Linked DNA regions of Homo sapiens. The protein of the gene in region 2 interacts with the protein of the main gene of each other region in a pairwise test. Each region holds a gene or a part of one and is shown on either strand. Other genes may lie near its edges.

Region 1 (5,124 bases), about 27 Mb from region 2:
AACGGTCTCTTTTATAAAGGCACTAATCCCATTCATGAGGGCTCTACCCTCCTGACCTCAATATCTCCCAAAGATCCCATTTCCTGATGCCATCACAGCGGGAATTACAAGATGAAATCATAATTTAATAATTTTATTAATCTAACCCAATATATCCAAAATACTATTTCAATTCGCAATCCGTATTAAAAACCATTGAAATATTTAACATTCTGTTTTTGTACTGTTAGAAAATTGGTGTGTATTTTATGCTTGTGGTCCATCTCAATTTCAAGAGCTCAATAGCCACATGGTGGCTAGTGGCTATCATACTGGACAGAGCAACTCTAGAAGGATAAACGAAAAGCTAGTAACAGTGGTTACATTTCTGGAAAGCACAACTGGGCAGCAGGAGGTAGGAGATGTAAAGGAGGCTTACTTTTTTCAGTATTTGCTATTTTGTTCTCCTTGACTTTTATACCATGTGCATGTGTTATTCGAAAAAATGAATAAAGTACATTCTCTAAAATAAATTACAAATGTAGATATTCTTTGAACTACTCCTAGAAATCTATCTTACAGACATACCTGCAAAGGAGCAAAATGCTATATAAACGAAGTTATTTGTTGTAGCATTGTTTTTAATACCACAAGACTGGAAACATTCAACAGAGGACTGATGATATATTCAGACACCCGGCCAGGCACAGTGGCTTACGCCTGTAATCCCAAAACTTTGAGGGGCCGTGGCAGGCAAATCGCTTGAGCCCAGGAGTTCAAGACAAATCTAGGCAACATGGCGAAACCCCACCTCTACAAAAAATTTTAAAAATTAGCTGGATATGGTAGGCATGCGCCTGCAGTCCCAACTACTCAGGTAGCTGAGGTGGGAGATTAACTTGACCCCTGGCAGTCAAGGTTGCAGTGAGCTGTGATCACACCACTGCACTCCAGCCTGGGTGACAGAGTGAGACACTGTCTCAAAAAAAAATTTACAGACACCCATACAAAAGAATATTATACAACCCACTACTCCAAAAAAGAAGAAAGGCATTCATTACATACTGACACAAAATAAGATGTACTATTAAGTGACATATGTGACCACTTGTACTAAAAGGTAATATACACACAAAATTGTTCATAGATGCATAAAATCTCTGGAACACCACACAAAAACCTAGTAAAGCTACTTGCCTTTGAAAAGGCAACTGTATGGCAAAGAACAGACCAGTAAAGAGACTCTTCACTGGGTATCCCTGAATTTTGGATTGCAGTCATGGATTATGTATACAAAAATTCACTATTCCACATGCAGCTGTAGATGTTTTCATGTACCCTGCCTTGCCTTGCTGTGATATTAAAGTCCATCTAAAGCCTACTGTTTTTCCAGTTCCTCCATAGAGAGGTCTGAGGCTTCTTTCTCCAAGAAGCCCCAGATGTTTCAATGATACCAGAACACTTTTCATTTTTTAATTTTTTTAAGCACACAGTTCCCACAGTTCTGTCTCCTTTCATTGAATGGCATTATAACCTCAGCCCCAACTACTGAATCTTATCTCTAGTAAATCCCCCAAGGCCACACTTCCCTTAAAGTTGACTGATTTTTCTAAGTTTCTAGTACCTGGGCACTTTCTCTCTCAAGATCAACTGTATACATAAGAGAAAACTTTTATATTTTATCCAACATTTTCATCTGTTTACAGTAAGAAGAATGGGCCTAACTTGTGTCTGTGTCATTTTAAGAAATTTAGATAAAGACAGTATAAACAATAACAGCAAACACTGAAGAAAGTATGATCACTGAGAAAAGACTGCTAAACTTGACAGTTCATCCGGAAGGCCAGTAGGAAGGGAAATGTGAAAAAGAATGGTTAAAAAATATGTTTGCAAAGTTGAAGTCAAGAACAGATAGTGATTAAATGTAGAAAGCAAAAGTAGATTGCACTTTTAAAAGGTATGGAGGGAAGAGAAATTTCAAATCTTCAAACTGCAGGAAAATACAAAATATTCCCCAAATACCTATGTGAATTTTTATTTAGAAAGAAAACCAAAGTTAATTATTTCAACAAAAATACTTTAAATATGATGGTGCTGCCTCATCTAGAACATCTAAGGTCCCACTAGAAATAATATAAAATCACTGTGCAGTCAATCCTCCTTATCTGTGGGTTCCAAATACATGGATTAAACCAACCATGGATAAAAAATATTCAGGAAAAAACTGTGACTGTACTGAACATGTACAGACTTTTTTCTCATCATTTCTAAAACAATATAGAATAACAACTATTTACATTGTATTAGATATTAAGTAATCTAGAGAGGATTTAAAGAATAACAATAAAATGTGCATAAAACAAATTCTACACCATTTTATACAAGGGACTTCAGCGTTCTCATATTCTGGTGCTTGCAGGAGAGTCCCGGAACCAATCCTCTGTGGAGACCGAGATTTTTAGCAATCTATGTTCAAACATACTACAAGGCAGAGAAAAAAACAGCAGCATCAATGACCTGGAATTGTATAACTGTTTTAGTCAAATAAATAATTCATTAGTAACCAGGATAATAGAAAACCTCAAAAAAATTAAAATACATAAAACCCAATTTTTTAAAAACAGATTTTTCAATTCTCACTACAACTATGTTCTCTCCAAAGCGTAAGCTAGTAAGGAAAGACACTGCCAACTGGAAACCTAGGTCGGCCCCCATGGAGAATGATGGGTCATGTCTTTTAAACAAAAGCAAACAGAAAACATTCATGTGTTCAACTTTATGGACTGTCAAACCTAATGCAAGCTTGAATTTAATTCAAGAAAATTATTATTTTAGCAAAAGTCCACATTAAATAGGGACTGCTGTGTAAAGAGACTACTTATTTTTTTTTTTTTAACTAAGAGTTATATTCCTATCACCTATAATGAGTTTTGTGGAATCCACAACTCTATAATCAACTTGTAAACACGTAACTTACATATTGGTTTATCATTCCCAGATTATTAAAAAAAAAAAAAAAGCACCTATGACAACACTACACAGGCCCAGACTCAAATCAGCACAAATATAAAGTACAAGTACTCTAATTGCTCTTCAAATTCCCAAAGTCTATCCTGACCCTCTTCTGAAGCAGCAACTAATACCACGTCAATTCACGTGAGTGGGGTCCTCAGGCCATAAAAGCTCAATTAAAGCAAAGTCTAGAGTAGTGCCACCCAACACAACTTTATACAATGATGTAAATGTCCTTGGGTATCTGTGCTGTCTAATACAGTAGCCATCAGCTGCATATGGCTATCTAAATTTAGATTAAGTAAAATTTAACATTCAGTTTCTCAGTCACAGCAGCCACATTTCAAGTGCTAAATAGCCACATGTGGCTGGCAGCTACCTGTTAAGATAGAGCAGGTCTACAGCAAAAATTTCTCCAAGACCTACTGTTCTTCAGCTGTGCTTCAAAGGCTTCCTGGTGGTGAGGATGAGAGGAAAACTGATCAGGCAGGACTTCAACAACTGCCTATTCTTCCTTCCACAAAACAGCTTTACTCCTTTTATCTGTTTTACATTTCGAAATTCTGCATATTTCTCTCTAAAGGCTTTCTAGTTGCTGCTGTGTGTGCAGGTGTGCACATGTTTTAAGTCTGACTACTACTGGTTTCGAGCAGAAATGGCCAATGCACAACCTCAGGCCAAAGCTGGACCCTCCTGATAACTAAAACATTTTTTAAAAAAAAGTTTAATTGATCAGCTAACATGAACTACAACCTAACTACCTGTCTATTAAGAATTTTAGGCCGGGCGCAGTGGCTCACGCATGTAATCCCAACACTTTGGGAGGCCAAGGTGGGCGAATCACCTGAGGTCAGGAGTTCGAGACCAGCCTGACCAACATGGTGAAACCCCGTTTCTATTAAAAATACAAAATTAGCCGGACATGGTGGCGCATGCCTGTAATCCTAGCTACTCAGGAGGCTGAGGCAGGAGAACTGCTTGAACCTAGGAGGCGGAGGTTGCAGTGAGCCAAGATCGCACCACTGCACTCCAGCCTGGGCAACAGGAGCAAAACTCCGTCTCAAAAAAAAAAAAAAAAAGAATTTTAAAAGTGGATCTCAATAAGGAAAATTTACATTTACTACCACAGATAAAGTATCTCTAGTCAACAAAAGAGTTTCAATAGTTCACTCAAGTCAAGGCAGAAGGCTCACGGGCCCAGCTTCCACTGCATCATTTATGAGGATTTTATATAGGAGGCTCTGCAAAAAAGATTTGCCACCCCACATTTTCTTTTTTTTCTTTTTTTTTTTTGAGACGGAGTCTTGCTCTGTCTCCCAGGCTGGAGAGCAGTCGCGGGATCTCGGCTAACTGCAACCTCGGCCTCCCCGGTTCAAGCAAGTCTCCTACCTCAGCCTCTTGAGCAGCTGGGACTACAGGTACCCGCCACCACACCCAGCTAATTTTTGCATTTTTAGTAGAGACAAGGTTTCACCATGTTGGCCAGGCTGGTCTCAAACTCCTGACCTCAAAGTGATCCGCCCGCCTCAGCCTCCCAAAGTGCTGGGATTACAGGCGTGAGCCACTGCCTCCGGCCTCACCACCTCACATTCTGAAATGAAAGACGTGATGAGGATGGAACGTTTCCTTGATATTTACAAGACCTTAACCATTATGTCTCTACAGAATTTCTGGAAGTAGCTGAAGCAGCATATGAAAATGTAGTTTACTTTTAAACATAGGCAAACTATAAGATCACAGATTCACTATGCTACTTCCTCAGATCAAGAGTCTTTTTTGACTTAAGAGACTCAAACTAATGAACAGATGGAATACCAGTGGTTCACCCAAGATTATTCCTACTGAATACATTAAATGTGAAACTACATCCCCCTTCCCCACAAAATGAGGGAAGGTATGACACTGTAGATTATTCAAGGAAATGCAAATTTTTACATTAAGGTAGACACGTGTACTAAACAGAAGCAACTAAAGTCTATCCTCGCTTTCCACTACTCTACAGCCTTGAGGCCAATGTAAAACCAGATTTTGAAAAATGACAGGGCTACCTAGGATAATTAGTGACAATTTCACAGTAAATTCACAAACTTTGATAAGAATTAATCACGTCAGAATTTCTATTTTCTTAAGACT
Region 2 (5,914 bases):
CACTGCATGAGAACTTCTGTATGAACATTTAGTTATAATGCTGTTTCATTAATACCAGCGAATATAGGTAACAGCTAACAAGTCTCTCAGGTTTGTTGGGGGAGGGCAGTTAAAATTCACATCAAATAGACATTCAGTGTGCTTTACACTATTATGCCCTTTTCCCATACATATGCTTCCCCAGTTTGTATTTGTACAGTCAGCTTTTGTATGTTTCTTTTGTAGTTTCAAACATAGTTAAATAGCTATTTTAGTAGAAAATAATGAAGTCAGTGTTTATACCAATATGTTGTAAAATGCCCTATCCTATGAACTCCCCAGTGTATTTGCACTGGCCTGTGTACTTGTTCTCAGCAGTTAAATGGTTTCATGATATTGGCACAACTTGGGGAATAATAAATGTGGCAGTATGTTTTTCTAGTGAGCATTATTACAAAATAATCACTGGTGTGTGTATATATGTGAATACACATATAATGTGTGTGTATATGCATTCACATGTATACACATACATACATTATATGGTATATATGTATATGGTGTGTATATAGTATGTATATATATGATTAAGCTGTGTTAATTTTTGTCAGGTTTCCATTCAGTTTTAATATATGATATTTTATAGCTCAAAGATTTGGAGTCCCATAGGTAATATTAATAAGAAAGTCATTTTAAATAATTGAGACTTTATATCCTAATTCAAAATTTGACCTGCCGCGCTTTTTAGGAAGGCATGGTACGATGTGATACAGCGGTTGGAACACCTGATTATATTTCCCCTGAAGTATTAAAATCCCAAGGTGGTGATGGTTATTATGGAAGAGAATGTGACTGGTGGTCGGTTGGGGTATTTTTATACGAAATGCTTGTAGGTGAGTAAGGAAGATTTTATGTCTCTCTATTACAGTTGTTCATCTCAAAACTTGCCACTTGGCTCTTTCTAATATATTTATTATATTAAGCAATCTTGATTTTATTTGTGGGTAATAAACATGATCCAAACCTGCTTCGTATGTGTTTTTAAAAGCATTTAGAGGCTTAGAGCAACTTTGTGATGTGTTCTTTTATATATTAGGTGTATGTTTTTAGTTTAATACATACCTAATAATCTTTTTAAACGGGTAACTTTGACTCTTCCTTTGAAACTGACTTTTTAAAAATGTATTTCATTTTGCTTTTGTTTTCTTTATCAATTTTTCAGGTGATACACCTTTTTATGCAGATTCTTTGGTTGGAACTTACAGTAAAATTATGAACCATAAAAATTCACTTACCTTTCCTGATGATAATGACATATCAAAAGAAGCAAAAAACCTTATTTGTGCCTTCCTTACTGACAGGTAAATAATTTTAAAACTGAGCCTGTATTAATTCTGAGGACTTCTCATCTTCTGCTCCATTTTTAAGGTCCATATCTGAGCTTCTACATGTAAATTGTTAGAATATAAATGACAGTGAAACCTGATGTAATTTTATGATATTCTAGATGTCTTTTGTAGATCTCAACTCACTTATCATACCTAAGAAATTGTGATAATAATACAGTCTTGGCTGATGGCTAAACTAGATGACTTTTTTCTTTTATTGTTCAATTTTTAACTTGGTTAATTATAAAAATTACTGTGTATTTTACTGAATCTAAAAAAATTTTTTAACATAACATCTCTGAAATTAGAGTACATCTCACAGTCAATGGTATGAGTTGGGAGCATCCTTTTTCATAGTGGTATAAAAACGGTGATACACCTTATACTTTAAACCATTTTAGATTTGATGATGTATGGTATATGGTTGTTGAAAGAGTCAATAGTATAAAGCCATTTTTAAAAGTATACTATCTTTTTTCTTCTAGACATAATAGTTGGTGTTCCATCTTGTAGATCCAACAAGCATTTTAATAATAATGTCTGTCTGCATTTTTGAAAGAAAAATGGCATATTATATATACCTTTGTGGTTTACTTTTGAAATTTGAAAGTGAACCAGATGTATTAGTAAGATTATATTTAATGTTTATGATTGTATATTGTTAAATATTAGGGAGACCTAGTACTTTTAAATATGTTTCAAGTTGAGATTTGCTTTAACTTGTCTCCCTTCATTATGTCCTTTAGAGCTTGAAGTATGGTTTTTCAAATGTTTACTTTTTTTTTTTTTTTTTTTTTTTAAATAGAGACAGGGTTTTGCTCTGTTGCCCAGGCTGGTTTCAAACTCCTGGGATCAAGTGATCCTCCCACTTCAGCTTCCCAAAGTGCTGGGATTACAGGCCTGAGCCACCCATGCCTGGCTAATTTTTACATTGATTGATTGATTGATTGAGACAGAGTCTCACTCTGTTGCCCAGGCTGGAGTGCAGTGGCATGATCTCGGCTCACTGCAACCTCCACCTCCCGGATTCAAGTGATTCTCCTGCCTCAGCCTCCCAAGTAGCTGTGACTACAGGTTCCTGTCACCATGCCTGGCTAATTTTTGTATTTTTGATAGAGAGGGTTTCACTATGTTGGCCAGGCTGGTCTTGAACTCCTGACCTCATGATCTGCCTGCGTTGGCCTCCCAAAGTGCTGGGATTACAGGTGTGAGCCACCGCACCTGGCCAATTTTTACATTTTAATATAAAGCATTGTATTATGCTGTTTATTAGGTGCTAGGGATATAGTAGTGAGGAAGATACAGAGCCACTTTTCTCAAATACCTCATAGTCCTTTGGGGGAATTAGATAAGCAAATCAGACATTTATAGTACACACAGCTAATTACCATGAGATAAGTACCATGTGCCGGAGAACCATGGAGAGGTTTTCTAATCCAGTTTGAGAGTTAGTGAAAGCTTCTTGGAAAAATTGTCACATGTCTAAGCCAACTTATCTTTTAGCTTATGCAAAAACTTAGAATTTAGAGTATTTTCTTTATTTATAAGCACTGTACTAGGGAAAAAAGGTGCTAACTTTCTTTTTCCAATTCAGCTAAAATCACATTTTTAAAAACTTTTTGCTCACCAAAAAAGAGGCTGGTATCAGTAACTTGTCCAGTGAAAGCTCTGAATTCTGTGGCAGTATCAAGAATTAGTAGTCATTGGCTTTTGAATGGTCAGAAATAATTAATAGATTATAAATTGGAAGTTCAAAATTTTAAATGTGTTTCTGGAGGTTTTTGGTAGCATCTGGTATTGCTGCCTAAGTAAAGTTTTGGTTGGGGAAAAAAAAGCCTAACTTTACCATTGTAAGAAAAAAATAACACACACACACAAAAAACTGTCAAGAAAATGCATGGTGCTTTATTCATTTTGCTAATGAAGTAAGGTGGTGATTAATCTGGATTTTTGTTGTCAGTAGAAAAGTCATGGGTGTTTTTTGTAGTTATTCTTTAGTTTTCTTTTTTTTGAGACGGAGTCTCGCTGTGTTTCATCCAGGCTGGAGTGCGGTGGCGCAATCTCAGCTCACTGTAGCCTCTGCCTCCCGGGTTCAAGCGATTCTCCTGTCTCAGCCTCCCAAGTAGCTGGGACTACAGGCGTGTTCCAGTACACCCGCTAGTTTTATATTTTTAGTAGAGATGGGGTTTCACAGTGTTGGCTGGGCTGGTCTCGAACTCCTGACCTCAGGTGATCCACCCCACCTGAGCCTCCCAAAGTGCTGGGATTATAGGCATGAGCCACCATGTCCAGCCTTTCTTTAGTTTTCTTTTAAAAAAATTCTTTAATGTTCTCAATCTTTAACATATTTTCTATTTGGGCTGATACTATGCTGACAATATAATTTCACCTTAGAACTATATTTGTCGTCCTACACTGATTTAATATCCTGCCCACAAATAAACCTGGACAGGTTATAATAAGATCTTAAATGATTGATTACTTTTCTCCTTCTGTCATTATTCAGGGAAGTGAGGTTAGGGCGAAATGGTGTAGAAGAAATCAAACGACATCTCTTCTTCAAAAATGACCAGTGGGCTTGGGAAACGCTCCGAGACAGTAAGTTTTTTTTTTTCTTTCATATTTTAGTGAATATTTGAAAGTAGTTGTGGTAGTTTGTTGAAACTACATTGCTAAATATTTGTGTGTATCTGATGAAAATCAGAAGCCACAAATACTATATGGGAATTGTCCTAACCTATTAATTTGATAATATTGGGCAGATTATATTGTTACTCCTCTTATGTCCCACGCAGGATACCCAGATGAAATATAAATGTAATGGATTTAGGCTCACCAGTCATAATTTTACATTTGATCTTTGTTGAATTGTTCATTTTAGGCGTTAGTTATCTTATTATGGAGGTGGTCAATAAGTAGTAAGTAATGAGATTAAAATATATGTTTTTGTGAGAAGACAAGTTATTCTCTTGTTTTTATTAAAACCCAAAATATAAGAAGGTTCTATTATTAATTCCAGAATTCAATTTAATTTTATTTATGAGTTTATAGGATATTGTGATATACTTGATTCCATCAGGCTTTTGCAGCTGGCAATTCAGAAACAAAAATGTATTGTATAAGAAACTAATTTTCAGTCAGTTTAGAACACTTTCTTACTTTTTAAAAAAAGTTAAAATTACAAGATGATTCACAGAAAACTCTACAACATAGCTGAATCAAAATTATCATGACACCAAAGGTTCTCATCATCTTCGTGGATTTGGGAGGTAAAGAATTCATCTTTCCCCTGCTGACATCTTAGGATTTTTTTCCCTGTTCATCTATCAGAGAAAGGATAATGTATCTCAGTCCCTAACTTGCTGCCTTAGCAATAGCAGTGAATAGTAACAATGGAAATGAACTCAGCTACCTTATTTTAGAAAGTTACACAGTAGTTATTTGTCTTAAGGACTGCCTATCTAGTTGAGACAGTGAAGGATAGTACTTTGCAGAGAGATGGAAATCTTGTTAATTCTGATGAAATAAATCATGTAGGTTTGCTAATATTAGTGAAGCATTCTAGTTATCAAATATTTTAAAAGAACAATTGTATTGCCTTCAAGTACTATAGCACAGTACTTACATTGTGCTGAGCTATAAAATTGTCTAAGGAGGAGAAAGGGAAAATAAATCCTCTGGAAATTAAGAAATTATACAACAAAGAACATCATTGAATGACCAGCTGTCTGAGAAGCTGTAAGAGCAGCTTGACTTTGGGAGAATTTTATTAGCAATTATATACTAGGAAATAAGGAACTTCCTCCTCTTCAGAATTAAATGTGACATAATTATTATCTTCATGCTGCAAGTGAAATTGTTGCATGACAAAGAGATGATCAGGGAGTGAGAAATGGTTACATCAAAACACTTTTTGTGTTTTTATTCAGGTTATTCTCTTAGTAAAGTTTAAGAAGGCTGAAGACGTACAAATATTATTATAAATCTGAATAAAACTTTGAAGGGGACTGAAGAAAATACAAAATAATATTTTGTATTGCTTTAAATTCTTTTTCAAAGTTAAGCAATGCATAAATAATTATAGAATAACCACACAATAAATCAACCGCAAAAGTAACAAGGATATTTTTCCTTTTATGTATTGAAAAACCGATCACTTGAAAGAGGAGGTAATTTAGTCAACAACTATTTACTGAACACCTGTTGTATATTGATCACTGTTCAATTTCAGACACTGGGAAAACAGCAGTGATCAAACCACCAAAAGTTTTCTTTCTCCCTTCTGGAGCTCATAGTCTTATGGAATTAGGGAGTCCAGATCAGTGGCATTTTATTATATTGCTGTACCTCCTTCATAAAACTACTTAAGATCTGCATTATCTATGGTTTTATTCTAGCGTGGTTAGATTTAGCATACTTAAAAGAATTTTGGTAGTTTTTCCTAATTCTAAGAGGTCCTGTTTTGTGGTTATTGGAAAAAACAAAGAAAAATTGAAATCTGTAGAACTTATTGTTCTTTGCTTCCCTTCCCCTCTTCCTACCCCTTC
Region 3 (5,124 bases), on a different chromosome or scaffold from region 2:
GATACAAAATCACAACACCAAAGTTGGTTGTTTTTGTATAACACTAGCAATGAACAATCTAAAACTGAAATAAGCGACCACTAAACTAGTATCCAAAAAAATACTTAAGAAATAAATTTAATGAAAGAGGTGCACAAATTGTGCACTGAAATGTGAAGGTCTAGGAAAGAGGTGATGAAGGCCTGCGTGTGGACCAAGATGAAAGGCCAGATTTGAGACACATGACTCAAGTAAAATTAAGCCAGCGCAGTGGCACTTGCCTGTAGTCCCAGCTACTTGGGAGGCTGAGGCAGGAAGACTGTTTGAACCTACGAGTTCAAGGCCAGTCTGGGCAACACAGCCAAAACCCCGTCTCTTAAAAAAAATTTATCAGTACTTGATGAACAAGAGAGTGTATATGGTGATGGAGAAGAAGCTCAGAACATCTTCAGAATTGCTAGTTTACAAAAATAGGTGGATTAAATTCTGTTAAGTGAGCTGGAGGAGACAGTGAGTTTAGGTTTGCTCATGCTAAGCTGGAGGGTTACAGGAGGTCAAAATGGATTTTCTGGATGGTATTCTGAAATGCAGGTCTGAAGTTTATGATGCTTACTTGTTGACATTACGTTTCAGGGTCTCTAGCTGCTGACGTTCAGGAGCTGTGATCATCTCCTCTATTTCTTGTAACTGTGCTTCCTCTGCACCAGTAGCCTGCATAGATGCAATGATGGCTTCTACCCTCTGAGATTTTTCTAGTAGACGCCTGTCAAACAAACACAACTCTGAGACATCTTCCCTAACCTGGGAGATTCTCTTACCACGTGTGTCTGAGGCACTACCCACCACCCTTTACCATTTTCCTGATCAAAGTAGATAATGTCACCTTCTAAGGACATTTTCTACAAACTTATTTGGAAATATAACTTCACTCCTGAAATTCTTATTGCCTCTCATTTGCACTTAAAAGTTTGGTGCTTTTGTACGTTTCTCACAAATTTAATCTGAAAAATTATTTCACTGGGAGCATGTTAGAAAAGTGTAGACTAATGCATGATTTACACTAATCTAAGCCAATGATTCAATGCAAGTAGACTGGTTGCTATCTCTACTGGTTCCTACTTCTCAAAAAAAAAATTTTTTTTTTTGAGATGGAGTCTCACTTTGTCGCCCAGGCTGGAGTGCAGTGGCGTGATCTTGGTTCACTGCAACCTCCACTCACTGGGTTTAAGTGATTCTCCTGCCTTAGCCTCCCGAGTAGCTGGGACTATAGGTGCCCGCCACCATGCCCAGCTAATTTTTGTATTTTTAGTGAAGACAGGGTTTCACCATGTTGGCCAGGTTGGTCTCAAACTCCTGACCTCAAGTGATCCACCTGCCTCAGCCTCCCGAAGTGCTGGGATTACAGGCATGAGCCACCCTGCCAGGCCCAGCGTCTATTGATTCCTATTTCTAGAGGAAATTTCCCCTGAGGCCCTTGATCTTGAAAGATGTAAATAACTCAACTGAAAATGTTACTTACTTATTCTCTTTGGTTTCAAATTGCCTCCTTTCTATCAAGTTGGCTATGCTCTGAGGAAAGAGAAGACAGACAAGGAATGCACATAGTTCTATTTCAGCAGCTCAGGGCGAAGTGGGCACATGAGGGGTACTTGACCGTATGGAGGAAATGGGGAGAAGGTCCAGATTGAGTTACCTTGTAGCACCTGTGCAACAACATTCGGGCAGCTGACAGGATGTTCACAGTATATAAATAGAAGGTCCTGGATGGGGCATGGTCTGGTGTTTTGGGAATTTCCTATTTGTCCAATAGAAAGAAAAATAGCAGAAATTATACTGTTTTAGAACTGGCAAAGCACACACTCATTCTACCTGGAGTTACTTAGCCCTCCTTTTTACTTACACTTTCCTGTTTCCTAGTCATTCAGTACCTGTGTTTATTTTATTTATTTATTTTGAGACTGGGTCTTGCTCTGTTACCTAGGATGGAGTGCGGTGGCATGATATCAGCTCACTGCAACTTCCACCTCCGGCTCAAGCAATCCTCCCACCTCAGTCCCCCAAGTAGCCGGAACTACAGGCATGCACCACCATGCTCCGCTAATTTTTTAATCTTTTGGGGGTGGTGGAGACATGGTCTCACTATATTTTCCAGGCTGGTCTTGAATTCCTGGGCTCAAGTGATCATCCCGCCTTGGTTTCCCAAAGTGCTGAGAATACAGGTGTGCCCGGCCCAGTCTTTGTGGTTTATGTCATAATCAGTCAAATGGAGAGCTGGGCTTCCCTGTTTTTTCCATTTGACTGTCAGCATCCTGAGCTGGGGAAGAAAGGGAGGGCAACTAACATTTACTGAACAACTCTATGTGCCAGGTAAATTCTATTTGATCTTTACAAAAAGTCGTATTATTATTATTTTTGAGACAGAGTCTTGCTCTGTTGCCCAGGCTGGAGTGCAGTGGCACAATGTTGGCTCACTGCAACCTCTGCCTCCCAGGTTCAAGCAATTCTCCTTCCTCAGCCTCCTGAGTAGCTGGGATTACAGACACACGGCACCACGCCCAGCTAATTTTTGTATTTTTAGTAGAGACAGGGTTTCACCAGGTTGGCCAGGCTATTCTCGAATTCCTGACCTCAAGTGATCCGTCCGCCTAGGCCTCCCAAAGTGCTGGGATTACAGGCATGAGCCACCGCACCTGGCAACCATATTATTTTTATTATCACCATCCATCACTGTTTTATAGATGGGAAACGTGGTAACTTGCTTAATGTAACTGGGTAAGGCAGAGCTGTAATCTGACTCCAAAAATCCATTCTATCTATTTACTCATATGCTCTACTAAATAGCCCTGCAAAGACTCAGTTAGATGTGTTGATAAATTTAAACTATAACAGAATTAAGGCTTAAGGAAGGACAGAAATGAGAAGAGAAAAAAAGGCAGGGTGGGTTTGGGGTGATGTCCTGGCTCTGCCTCTTTTTTGTTTTTTGTTTTTTTTGTTTTTTGAGACAGAGTCTCACTCTGTTGCTCAGGCTAGAGTGCAGTGGCTTGATCTCGGCTCACTGCAACCTCCCCCTCCTGGGTTCAAGAGAGTCTCCTTCCTGCCTCAGCCTCCCGAGCAGCTGGGACTATAGGCGTGTGCCACCAGGCCCAGCTAATTGTTTTGTATTTTATTAGAGACGGAGTTTCACCATGTTGGCCAGGCTGGTCTCGAACTCCTGACCTCAAGTGATTTGCCCACCTTGGCCTCCCAAAGTGCTGGGACTACAGGCGCGAACCACCGTGCCCGGCCACCTCTTTCTCACTAGGGCAGTTAAGGCCCCAAATTATCCTCCAAGTGCTCGCTATGTCTCTGTGAATCATGTTTTTCTGTCTCAGAGCTGGATATAGAGTTTGCTTGGGGGTTCAGTATGTTTGCCTAAGAAGCTTCTCTCACCCTAGGCCAGCTTTGCTGGTTGGCAATTATTACGCCCTTGGTTGGTTACCTGGAGTGACATGAAATTTTCTGAGAGCATCTTATATAGCATATCCTTTGCCTCCTTTGCAGGAATCATTGCAAAGTCTTCCACTTGCTTCTGCTCTATGTGTTTCTTCTGCAAAACTAGACGGAATATTCTAGCACAGCGAGACCCAAATCTGGAAAGGAATGAAGAAAGCAAATGGCATGCTAACATAGATCAGCTTTAGTTCCCAGTCATAGATGGGGTGGTTGTTCTATTCCATGTGTGAAGCCAGTACCAGACAGGAACAGTGATCAGAAAATTATTCTACAGCTCCATAGGTTGGTGATGGTAAGGCATCACCAACTGCTGTTAATCATAAGGCAGTCACCAACTGCTGACTCATTTGAGTGCCACAGTTCCTACATTTGTAAGCAAAGGCTTTAGGGAGGCTGGTTAATTTGCATCGGTAGGAATTAAACAGTAGGTTATTTTAAGGTAAAGAGCAGTATTACATGAGATCCATAGGAGTCCAGTGAAAAAATGGGGAAAAGTATGCCAAGGTGTGGTTATATTGGTGGCTTACATAATGATCAAATTACTTCACTGGGGATAGGAAGTATGTGATCCCAAACCCAACCAGTGTCCCCCTTACCTCTCCTGTACGACGGACTCCAGAGTGGCTGTGGCTAGGGATGCTAATGCCTTATGGAGGTCTTTATGTAGAGAATTAAGGTCACTCAGTAATGTTTTGGCCTAGTTATTGTGATCTGAGTTTTATTCCTAAGTTTCTAATTTATAATTAAATTTTAAATGCTATTTTGTTTTTCATGTTATAATTTATGGTTTCAGTCATGGTACATAAATATTCCAAAACTTTAATACAAGTGTTTAAGTAAGGGTTTTGCTTAACTAAAATTTGGTTGATTAAAAGTCCTTTTTCCTTTTCTTTTTTGAGACAGGGTCACCCAGGTTGGAGTACAGTGGCATGATCTCAGCTTACTGCAACGTCTGTCTCCTGGGCTCTAGCGATCCTCCCACCTCAGCCTCCTGAGGAGCTGGACTACAAGCATGCATCGTTACAGCTGGCTAGTTTTTGTATTTTTGGTAGAGATGGGGTTTTGCCATGTTGCTTAGCTGATCTTGAACTCCTGGGTTCATGCAATTCACCTGCCTCAGCCTCCCAAAGTCCACCATGCCTGGCCTCTTTTTACTTCATCATCAATGCAGTTCACTGAAAATTCATAGAAAAATTTATTTAACAATTACTTCAATTTTCTAATTTATTTAGTATAATAAACATTACCAAATCTTTCTTTCCTAAGGCACCATTCTGATTTATAGGTCAGGCTGCCTGACTCTAAGGAAATAACTGGTAAGGATACTGATGACATACATTCCTCCACCACTGTCGCCAGACTTTCCAACAAACTCTAGCTATTAAGAAAAAGAGAGAGTGTTAACTGAACGGAAAGTCCAGTGATTCTGTTTCCAATGGAACAAATCTGACCAAAAGTCTGCAGCAGGTAGCCCTCCTATCAAATGATGTGGAGAAATTGTCTGGGCTGGCTAGGTAGAGAATAACTCTGCAGGAGGATGACACTAGGTATCAGTGCAGAAATAAATTATCAACAGTACAGGCTAAAGAAAAAAGAAAAAAAGCAAAAACAGACTTACTGGATCATCTGCCAGCAGAGTGAGATACTGATCAA
Region 4 (5,124 bases), on a different chromosome or scaffold from region 2:
GCCAGGTGTGTGGTGGTGTGTGCCTGTAATCCCAGCTACTTGGTGGGGCTGAGGCAGGAGAATCGCTTGAGCCCAGGTGGTGGAGGTTGCAGTGAGCCAAGGTGGTGCCACTGCACTCCAGCCTGGGTGACAGAGCAAGATGCTGTCTGGAAAAAAAAAAAAAAAAAAAAGATCTCGTGAAGAAATGAGAAAATATGATAGATGAAGCCACTTTCTTGGAAGTCTTTAAGCCCATTAATAAAACTAGATTTGCCTAGCTACCCTTAGGCACTAAAGCCACTAAGTGCTAAACTCTGCCTGACTTTTATTGTTGTCTTCCCAGTTTTTGAATCGTGCAAAATTTTTGATTTAAAAATTAAGTATAATTCCTTTTTTTTTTCAGGCAGCAAAACAGGAACTTGAACGACAACGTCGCTTAGAATGGGAGAGAATTCGGCGACAGGAGCTTCTCAATCAAAAGAATAGAGAACAAGAAGAAATTGTCAGGTTAAACTCTAAAAAGAAGAATCTTCATCTTGAGTTGGAAGCACTGGTATGGCTGAAGTTTAAGTGAAATTTATCTGAATGATGATGGAGCTACCTGTTGAAAAATGTAATTGTGGGCCAGGCGTGGTGGCTCACACCTGTTATCCTAGCACTTTGGGAGGCCAAGGCAGGCAGATCAACTGGGGCAGGAGTTTGAAACCAGCCTGGCCAACATGGTGAAACCCCATCTCTACTAAAAAAAAAAATTAGCCAGCTGTGGGCTGGGCATGGTGGCTCACTGTAATCCCAACGCTTTGGGAGGCTGAGGTGGGTGGATCACGAGGTCAGGAGTTCAAGACCAGCCTGGCCAATATAGTGAAACCCCATCTCTACTAAAAATACAAAAATTAGCCAGGAGTGGTGGTGTGCGCCTGTAGTCCCAGCTACTTGGGACACTGAGGCAGAAGAATTGCTTGAACCTGGGAGGCGGAGGTTGCAGTGAGCTGAGATCGCGCCACTGCACTCGAGCCTGGGCAACAGAGTGAGACTCCGTCTCAAACAAACAAACAAAAATTAGCTGGCCGTGGTGGGTGGTGGTGGGTGCCTGTAATCCTAGCTACTTGGGAGGCTGAGGCAGGAGAATCACTTGAACCCAGGAGGTGGAGGTTGCAGTGAGCCAAGATCGCACCACTGCACTCCAGCCTAGGTAACAGAGTGAGACGCCATCTCAAAAAAAAAAAAAAGAAAAATGTAATTGTGTTTTAAAATCTCTCGTGAATTAGTTATGTCTTAATGTCATTAGTCACATTTTCATATAAACAGACTGTACAATATGGTTTACTGAGAAAAGGATAATGACTCAAAATGCTGAGAATTATGTTGTAGCATCAGTTCAGACACTGATGAACCATGTACTCCTGGGCAAGACATTTCCCTTCTCTGTGCCTCACTTTTCCCTTGTCTGAAATAAAGAGTTGTGTTAGTTGAGTGATTTTCAGTTTTCAGATTGGTCTCTGTAAGATGGTCTGAGGAGGACTAAGCAGAGGCAGGAGAGGGGAAGCTCGGGCAGCAGAACAGTGATTTTCTCTCCCTAATTCTTCCCACGCTTCACAACAGAGAAGCTTGACATTTATGTGCTTTATGTTTCTTGGGGTTTCACTCAAGATTTGCTTGGAAAAAAAAAGATTCTACTATTAAAAAGACAACTGATTTGAAACTGCTGACCTAAATGATCTCTTACAGTTCCAGTTCTGCAGGATTGTAGTTCTTAGCTAATACTGGCCACTAAGCAGTTTTTACCAATCAGATGTTAGAGGGTCAAGTTGTTAAAAGACTTTGTTTGAAATGTGTGGTGAGAAGGTATAAAAGATCTGGCACTATTCTGCCACAACCCTAGAATCCCATGAGCCTACCCTGATCATATAGTAGGGTTTTACAAAAATGCATACCTAGTCATGTAGTAGAGCCAGATTTAGATCTTGTGTGATCATAGTCTAACATTTTATTTGGTTGATGACTTGAATTACATTAAAAATTATTTTTTTAATCATCACAATATCTTTAGTCAGAAATATATTATTTTATTCCTTCAAATGGATAGACATACATACCACAAGTATTAATCATGCCAGAGTACTACAAAACAGTTGTAAAAAACTTTTAACTCTCTTGCACTATTTTTATATATATATATCATCTTGACTATATATAATGGGAAGAGACCTTAAGATTGATTGTTTTTCCCTCAAGAACTGGTGCAACACATGAAGCACAGTAACACAGGTGAATGTGCAGAGTCTGGAAAGGTCCAGAGCCTATACGTATCCCATGTTGAGGATAAGAATGTGAGCTCCAGCAGAGATACACATGTTCCTTTCAGTGTATGTATTTCAAATATGAAACAGTCTTCAGTAAAACTTTTCATCATCAGTAAGTTTTAACCCAGGATGTCATTTCCCCTCACTCCACTGTATTAGTTTGGTAGGGCTGCTGTAACAAAATACGATAGGCTAGGTGGCTTAAACAACAGAAATTAATTTTTTCACAGCTCCTAAGATCTAAGACCAAGGTTAGTTAGGCTTAGTTTCTTGTGAGGCCTCTTTTGGTGGCTTGCAGGTGGCCATCTTTCATTGTGTCCTTATATGGTGTTTTCTCTGAGTGTATTTTATCTCTGGTGCCTTTTGTGTTCAGATTTCCACCTCTAATAAGGACACCAGTTAGATTGGATTAGGGTCCACCTGTATGACTTTGTTTAACCTTAATCACCTCTTTAAAGGCCCTGTCTCCAAATATTGTCACATTCTGAGGTACTGGGGCTTGGGACTTTAACATATGAATTTTGGGGGACACAGTTCAGCCCATAACCCCCCATGTCACCCTTCTTCTTAGGTCCCATTGAGAATCTCTGCTATTTGTTTGATTTCTTCACAGAAGAAGAGGAAAAAAGGAGAAGAATATTAGTATAGAACAGAACTGTTGCCAAAACGTTCCTCCTGGGCACTGTTTTAATTAGAGGAAATTAGATGGCCATATTTAGGGTAGAAATAGAAGTTCAGAGAAGGTAATGCCGAGCATCACATGCAAACATTTATTCCTCTTCATCATTCTTTGAGAGTGTCTCTGATATTAATATTGTTAATTAATATTGTCTAATGCTGAATTCAGAAAAAAATTCAATGTGTTATGTTTCTGCTTTCCCATACTAACATATGGGCTCTTGCACTCTGAGAATGATGTGTTTCCCACTAATAACTCGAGTTAACAGACACAACTCTGAAACACATTCCACTTGGTTTTAGGCATTTGTTTCAGGATGAATATGAATGATAACTGAGATTTTAAAATTTAACTAAAAATATTATTCTCCTTGTAGAAACATTTTCTATTAGCATTTTATGTTACTATATATTTATATGATCTTCCTATAGAATGGCAAACATCAGCAGATCTCAGGCAGACTTCAGGATGTCCGACTCAAAAAGCAAACTCAAAAGACTGAGCTGGAAGTTCTGGATAAGCAGTGTGACTTGGAAATTATGGAAATCAAGCAACTTCAACAGGAACTTCAGGTAAGTCCTTCACTGCTAAATTGTTCTTAAACATGTACAATTAATAGTTCTTCTGGGCTGGGCACGGTGGCTCACGGCTGTAATGCTAGCACTTTGGGAGGCTGAGGCGGGTGGATCCCCTGAGGTCAGGAGTTCGAGACCAGCCCAGTCAGCAGGGCAAAACCCCGTCTCTACTAAAAATACAAAAAAATTAGCTGGGTATGGTGGCGCATGCCTGTAATCCCAGCAACTCGGGAGGCTGAGGCAGGAGAATCGCTTGATTCCGGGAGGCAGAGGTTGCAGTGAACCCAGATCGCACCACTGTACTCCAGCATGGATGATAGAGCGAGATTCCATCTCAAAACAAAACAAAACGAAACAGTTCTTCTAATAGAGTTTTGTTTTGGGGGTCAATAACCTTGAGTCTTTGATAGGCTTGTGATCTAAATACACGCAATCCTGTATACAATATCAGGAAGTCCATAGACCTACTAAAACTCTGCTAGACGTCTGGTTAAGTTTTGCTTAATATATATACGTAAGTGGACATTTATCACTTTGAGTTTTAACTCTTTAACAATGTTTATGCATTCTTAATTCATTACTTGCTATAACAAACGACCTTAGACTGGGTAATTTATAAACAACAGAAATTTATTACTCATAGTTCTAGAGACTGAGAAGTCCAAGATCAAGGTGTTAGCAGATTCAGTGTCCGATGAGGGCTTGCTGTCTCCTTTAAAACTAGTGCCTTCTTGCTGCGTCTTCACATGCAGAAAGGGTAAGGCAGTCCCTTCAACTTCCTTTATAAGGACAGTCATCTCATTCATGAGTGTGGAGCCTCCTAAAGCCCTACTTCTTAATAGTACTGCATTGGGAGTTAGGTTCCAACATATGAATGTTGGGGACATACCAACATTCAGACCATATCATACATTAAAATAAGGTTATTGCTACTAATTTTAGGAAATTTTGACTTAAAGTTATTCTTTTTAAAATTATGATGAGAACTTGAATATGTCCCTTGGGGTCCTGGTAATTCTCTTCCTTACTTGTGCAGTAGGGTCTGGTTCAATAATTACTATTTGCAGAATGGGGCTGTGGAAGCATTCTGCATCTCTAGAGTTCTCTTACCCAATTTCTCTTACTGCATGGACTGGCAATTAATCAGTCTTTTTGCTTTGTTACAGGAGAGATAAACAAAAGCCAAAAATATTTTCTGTCTGATTTAAACCTGCTTTCCTAGTTTTTAGTCCTTTTTATTTTTTCCTCCCTCTGTCACCCAGGCTGGAGTGCAGTGGCATGACCTCAGCTCACTGCAACTTCTGCCTCCCAGGCTCAAGCAATTCTCCTGCTTCAGCCTTCTGAGTAGCTGGGATTACAGGCACCCACCACCACGCCTGGCTAATTTTTGTGTTTTTCGTGGAGACGGGGTTTCACCATGTTGACCAGGCTGGTCTTGAACTCCTGACCTCAAGTGATCCACCTGCCTTGGCCTCCCAAAGTGCTGAGATTACAGGTGTGAGCCACCGCACCCAGCTTTTAGTCCCTCTTTGATATACACATATTCATCCTGAAGTATCATGGCATGCTTACACATACCATCTAGCGC

The links. The genes of interacting proteins can lie anywhere in the genome.
Region 1: the proteins of ROCK1 (region 2) and SMAD2 interact in a two-hybrid assay, tested with the Homo sapiens proteins (one large-scale study listed by BioGRID and IntAct).
Region 3: the proteins of ROCK1 (region 2) and POLR3C interact in binary tests that used the Homo sapiens proteins (3 or more experiments, as listed by UniProt).
Region 4: the proteins of ROCK1 (region 2) and ITSN2 interact in a two-hybrid assay, tested with the Homo sapiens proteins (one large-scale study listed by BioGRID).

What each region holds. Positions count from the first base shown.
Region 1 is NC_000018.10:47,920,196-47,925,319, forward strand, and holds part of SMAD2 (mothers against decapentaplegic homolog 2), read right to left. Parts: intron 1-5,124. UniProt on the Homo sapiens protein: Receptor-regulated SMAD (R-SMAD) that is an intracellular signal transducer and transcriptional modulator activated by TGF-beta (transforming growth factor) and activin type 1 receptor kinases.
Region 2 is NC_000018.10:21,037,523-21,043,436, reverse strand, and holds part of ROCK1 (rho-associated protein kinase 1), read left to right. Parts: intron 1-727; coding exon 728-872; intron 873-1,201; coding exon 1,202-1,340; intron 1,341-3,873; coding exon 3,874-3,965; intron 3,966-5,914. UniProt on the Homo sapiens protein: Protein kinase which is a key regulator of the actin cytoskeleton and cell polarity.
Region 3 is NC_000001.11:145,836,540-145,841,663, reverse strand, and holds part of POLR3C (DNA-directed RNA polymerase III subunit RPC3), read right to left. Parts: coding exon 5,090-5,124; intron 4,850-5,089; coding exon 4,798-4,849; intron 4,647-4,797; coding exon of another isoform or gene 4,644-4,646; exon of another isoform or gene 4,173-4,643; intron 4,129-4,172; coding exon 4,068-4,128; intron 3,609-4,067; coding exon 3,458-3,608; intron 1,775-3,457; coding exon 1,673-1,774; intron 1,549-1,672; coding exon 1,499-1,548; intron 743-1,498; coding exon 593-742; intron 1-592. UniProt on the Homo sapiens protein: DNA-dependent RNA polymerase catalyzes the transcription of DNA into RNA using the four ribonucleoside triphosphates as substrates.
Region 4 is NC_000002.12:24,294,073-24,299,196, reverse strand, and holds part of ITSN2 (intersectin-2), read left to right. Parts: intron 1-382; coding exon 383-532; intron 533-3,392; coding exon 3,393-3,533; intron 3,534-5,124.